Linked DNA regions of Homo sapiens: region 1 is linked to region 2. Evidence: fine-mapped expression QTL. A gene starts in region 2. The other region holds a variant in brackets. All regions are shown on one strand. Distances are from middle to middle. Region 1 has its middle 30 kb from the start of FMN2. Region 2 holds the start of FMN2 (formin 2).

The links. PIP is the estimated chance that this variant, and not a neighbour inherited with it, causes the effect.
Region 1: its variant is the best candidate, but not a certain one, in a credible set for the expression of FMN2 in tibial nerve (GTEx, PIP 0.79).

What each region holds. Positions count from the first base shown.
Region 1 is chr1:240,060,165-240,063,075 of GRCh38, forward strand. No RefSeq gene overlaps it. Among named protein-coding and RNA genes, the nearest start is that of FMN2, 30 kb to the right of the region's middle. The variant T/C (reference allele first, on the strand shown) is at 1,256.
Region 2 is chr1:240,090,353-240,093,263 of GRCh38, forward strand. It overlaps FMN2 (formin 2), which reads left to right and starts at 1,531. Exons shown (of 18, transcript NM_020066.5): 1 at 1,531-2,911. The coding sequence starts at 1,758.

The DNA.
Region 1 (2,911 bases), 30 kb before region 2:
TAAGACACTGCCCTATCCTCAGAGGTATGAAATCTAGAGGAGAGAGACAGGCAAGCAAATAGGCAAACACTTTGAAATATGTGTAAAGGCCACCATAATACTTCCTTTTTGCCCTCTGAAGGTTCACTGAAAATCAGCTGACAAAAGTCGAATTAATAGGAGAGGCCAGGCGTGGTGGCTCATGCCTGTAATACCAGCCTGGACAACATGGCAAGACCCCATCTCTACAAAAAAAAAGTTACAAAATTTAGCTGGGCAGGCTGGGTGTGGCGGCTCACGCCTGTAATTCCAGCACTTTGGAGGCCAAGGCAGGTGGATCACGAGGTCAGGAGTTGGAGACCAGCCTGACCAACATGGCGAAACCCTGTCTTTACAAAATATACAAAAAGTAGCTGGGCATGGTGGCACGTGCCTGTAATCCCAGCTACTCAGGAGGCTAAGGCAGGAGAATTGCTTGAACCTGGGAAGCAGAGGTTGCAGTGTGCTGAGATCGTGCCACTGCACTCCAGCCTGGGTGACAGAGTGAGACTCAGTCTCAAAAAAAAAAAAAAAAATTTAGCTGGACATGGTGGTGCATGCCTGTGGTCCCAGCTACTCAAGTGGCTGAGGTGGGAGGATCACCCAGGCCCTGGAGGCCAAGGCTACAGTGAACTGTGATTGTGCCATTGCACTCCAGCCTGGGCAATAGAGTGAGACCCTGTCTCAAAAAAAAAAAAAAAAAAAAAAAAACAGAGAGAGAGAAATGGTATACAAATTTATTAGCATGCCACAAGAGGGAAATCCCCATTATGCAGTGGCGATAGATGCTTATTTACCCTTCTTCTTAGGTGAAAGGGAGATGGGGAAGTATGGATGATTTTAATGGGGTAGTAAGTGATTTTTTCGGAGAATTTAATGGGCTTGAATCACATACAATGGTCTGGAACATTGTCTGTGGGGCCCGCAGAGCAGACAATGGTTCGTGACGAAAATGTGTCCAGATGTGTTGACAGACTTCAGTCATTCTTCCAGCAATGAGTTCAGTGACGAAAACTCAGGGAAGGGACGAGAGGTCCAGACTTTAGGTGGATAAGGAGAACAACCTCATCCTTTGGGAGAGACAGAGGACTGAGAGACAGACCTGGGGCCAGAGGGGAACAGGGAAGATCAGATAGACTTTGAGACTTCTTCTTCAGTTCAACATGTCAAAGTGCTATATTTTGGGGTATTGGTTGGGTATTGGTTTCTGAGCCACAACATGTGATAAATGTGATCA[T/C]TGAAGCCAAGGTTAGGGGCTCTGAGAGCATATTCGAGAAATTTGAAGGGTCCCGGATGAGCTCTTGGATGAAGTGACTTCTAACCTGCAATCTGAAGTTGGGTAGAACTTAGCACGGAATGCAAGGGTGGCGGAGGGGAGCAGAAAAGTTTTCCAGACAGCTTTAATGGCAACCCCAGAGACGAGAAGAAGTAGACAGCACATTAAAAACAAACAAACAAACAAAAAAACAGTAAATAAATCCGTCAGTATATTTGGAGTTTCTAATGGCGGTGTGGATTGGAGGTGGGGAAAGAGGAACTGTGCTATGCTGAAATGAACGTCTAAAGGTGAGCAGAGCCTTAGAGACAAAAGTTTTCATGAGAGACAGAATAAACAAACAGACAATGGCCAGACCCTGGATGACAACTGACCCACAACCTCTGAAGCAACCAGTCCAGGATGTCAACCAAACCACAACCTCTGTAGCATTGACTCAGAACATTCAGGGCTGTTGAATGGTCAATGACTGCCAGCTTCCCTCCCTATTCCCTCTCTCCTTGACCCCATCCAACTCAGGACCAACCAGAGAAAGCTAAACACAAGAGGACTTCAGAAAGTTCATGGAAAATTGAAATAAAAGATTTAAAAAATATATAAATTGTATTTCTCAATGTATGTTTCATCAAGTTTAAGACACATTTGTAAGTGATGATACCAACCATTTAGTCCATCCCTAAAGAACTAAGGGTCCTAGAAGTTTAACCGTATCAATGCAATCTTTGTTACATTATTAACTGAAGAAGAATGAATGCCCTTTAAATATGTTTTTAAAATTAGCAAACATAAAGAAGTCAGAGGGAGCCAAATCAGGACTGGAAGGTGGATGTCTAAAGATTTCCCATTGAAACTGTGGCAAAATTGCCCTTGTTTGATGAGAAGAAGTGAGCATTGGCATCGTCATGGTGGAGAAGGACTCTCTGGTGAAGCTTTCTTGGGAATTTTTCTGCTAAAGCTTTGGCTAACTTTCTCAAAACATGCTTATAATAAGCAGATGTTATCATTCTTTGGACCTCCATGAAGTCAATAAGCAAAATGCCTGGAGCATCCCAAAAAACTGTTGCCATGACCTTTGTGCTTGACTGGTTTTGCTTTTTTATTTATTTTATTTTTTAAGAAATTATATAACAGAGACAGGGTCTCATTACGTTGCCCAGGCTGGTCTTTAGCTCCTGGGCTCAAGCAATCTTCCCACCTTGGCCTTCCTAGTAGCTGGGACTATAGGCGTGAGCCACCACTCCCAGCCCCTGCTTTTGCTTTGACTGGGTCACTACCACTGCTGGATATCCATTGCTTTGATGGTGCCTTGTCTTCAGGATCATATCGGTAAAGCCGTGTTTCATCTCCTGTTACAATTCTTTGAGGAGATGCTTTAGGATCTTGATTTCACTTGTTTAACGTTTCAGTTGAAAGCTCTGTTCTTGTCTGCAGCTGATCTGGGCACAAAGGCTTCGGCAACGTTGAGTGAAAAGTTTGCTCAAATTTAATTTTCCGTCAGAATTGTGAAGCTGAACCAATTGAGATGTCCATGGTCTTGGCTATTTTTTTCTGATGTCAACCATCAGGGCATGAACAAGATAAATTCTTTCCTCACAAACTGATGTGGATGGTCTGCTG
Region 2 (2,911 bases):
AGGAGCCTAGATTCTAGAAAAAAGGAGAGAGCAGTCTTGTGAAAGAGGTGAAACAAAGGCTTTTCATGTACTCCGGAATTGCTTGGAGACTGGGATATAACCCTGGCAAAGTTATTAAAGTTGATTTCTCTAAAGCATTTACTCGAAAGGGCCACCTAAGGATAACTGGCTAACTGCCCTTAAATTACATTTATTTTTAAAAACATAGTTTGAAAAAGGTTAGTAACCAAAGACTTACAAGACCAACCTTTTTTAAAAAAGAATTTTAAAGGCTGGTTCATAATATGCAAAGGAAGACTACACATTTGCTTGCTACATTTAAGTTGCACAGTATAATATATAGCTTTTCTCCCTCCTCTGGGTTATTTTGAAAATATTAATAAGTTGGATGTCTATTCCATATTTTCAAAGTGGTTATCAATGACTTTTACTTAAATACTTGTAAAACTTATTAATGCCACTTTAATCTCAGTTTACTGCTTAAAGCTTTAGATATCCATATTTTTTTAAAAAAACTATTCTTAAAAAATAGGTAACTAAATTTAATAAATAATGAAAACAATGACAAAATATTCAATGAGGAAAAATGTTTATCCCCATATTGTGGCCAGAACGTTAAGAAACTTTTACAGGACGAAGTCTGCCTGGAAGGGTTTGCTTGGGAAAGTGGTAGTTTATAGCATAACATCTGATTTTGTGTGTTTGTGCCAAGGGTGTTTCCTTTCTGTCTTTTTCCTTTTTATAGGCAGCCACAATAGTGACATGTTTAATATTGATGAGTTTGACCTCCTGGGAGTTATCGTATATGCACCCTTTTTGAATACAAATGCTGTTTAATTTATATGGTAAACACATAGAATTTGGAGACTAGCATTTTAATCAACACTAATCTCAGTATTTTCTACTTCTCCTACCTCTCCTTCTGTCAACAACAACAAAAAAATCACAAACCAATTTTATAAATGACAGCTAATGTCCTCTCCTGGAGAAGCAGGGTCTGTGTGTGAAACATAAAAGCAGCACCATGTGTAGTAACCTCTCCTAAACCATATGCTCAAGCACATTAACAGTGTTCAATTAGATGATCAATTATTCAAGAAACAGAACAATCCATTCATTCAACAAATATTTATTGAACAGCCATGCAGAGGCAGACAGGGGGTTGTGTATGTGGCTGTGACCCGATGGCACCTCTAAACTGGAATTGGGCTTCAGTTTTTCTCCGTGTAAAAATTTCTTCTTTTTTATTTAACTTTTCTCTTGGCAGGTCCAGCAGCTTTGAAGATCAGAGTGCATCTTCCAGCTGACGATCTCTTCGGTCGGGGACAATGCATTCGATTCGCACGGTGGAGATTAAAGTCCCCGAGATAGAGGAAACGTTTTTCGCGCCCAGGTTCAGCGAGGAGCCGCGCGGGGGCAGAGGGGGCGGCGGCGGCGGGCGGGGAGCCAGGCCCGAGCTGCGTTCTGCGCAGCCATTGGTGGGCGCCGCGCTCTGCACTGAGCATGTTCGCGCCCCGCCGGCCCCTAGCCGCAGCCGCAGCCGCAGCGACGGCAGCCACGGGAGCCGCCGCGCATTATGCAAAGCGGCGGCAGATGCGAGCGGGGCCAGCCGGGCGCGCGTCGGCCTCCCCTCCCAGCGGCTCCCCCCGCCGCCGCCTGACTCTCCCGGGAGACTCCCTAGGCCCGGACCTGGGGCCGAGGAGGGCCGGGATGGCCTGAGTGCCCGCGGCGCGGCGGCGCAGCAGCGGGATTGCACCATGGGGAACCAGGATGGGAAGCTGAAGAGGAGCGCAGGTGATGCTTTGCACGAAGGCGGCGGTGGCGCCGAGGATGCGCTGGGGCCCAGGGATGTGGAAGCCACAAAGAAGGGGAGCGGGGGCAAGAAGGCGCTAGGCAAGCACGGCAAGGGGGGAGGGGGCGGCGGCGGCGGCGGGGAGTCGGGCAAGAAGAAGAGCAAGTCCGACTCCAGAGCCTCGGTGTTTTCCAACCTGCGGATCAGGAAGAATCTGTCCAAGGGGAAAGGCGCCGGCGGCTCCCGCGAAGATGTACTGGATTCCCAGGCCCTGCAGACCGGGGAGCTGGACAGCGCTCACTCCCTGCTCACCAAGACTCCAGACCTCAGCCTCTCGGCGGACGAGGCCGGCCTGTCGGATACCGAGTGTGCGGACCCTTTTGAGGTGACCGGTCCAGGGGGTCCTGGGCCTGCCGAGGCTAGGGTCGGGGGCCGGCCGATCGCCGAGGATGTGGAAACTGCAGCAGGGGCGCAGGATGGACAAAGGACCAGCTCGGGCTCGGACACGGACATCTATAGCTTCCATTCGGCTACGGAGCAAGAGGATTTGCTTTCAGACATCCAGCAGGCGATCCGCCTGCAGCAGCAGCAGCAGCAGCAGCTCCAGCTCCAGCTCCAGCAACAGCAGCAGCAGCAGCAGCTCCAGGGCGCCGAGGAGCCTGCAGCGCCCCCCACTGCCGTCTCCCCTCAGCCCGGGGCCTTCCTGGGCCTGGACCGGTTCCTGCTGGGGCCGAGCGGCGGGGCTGGGGAGGCCCCGGGCAGTCCGGACACCGAGCAGGCGCTGTCCGCGCTCTCCGACCTGCCCGAGAGCCTGGCCGCCGAGCCCCGGGAGCCCCAGCAACCGCCGTCCCCCGGCGGCCTCCCGGTCTCCGAGGCGCCCAGTCTCCCGGCAGCGCAACCCGCGGCCAAAGACTCGCCCTCCTCCACGGCTTTCCCATTTCCCGAGGCCGGGCCGGGGGAGGAAGCGGCCGGAGCCCCCGTGCGAGGGGCTGGGGACACGGATGAGGAGGGTGAGGAGGATGCTTTTGAGGATGCGCCCCGGGGCTCTCCGGGGGAGGAGTGGGCCCCGGAGGTGGGAGAGGACGCCCCGCAGAGGCTGGGGGAAGAGCCGGAGGAGGA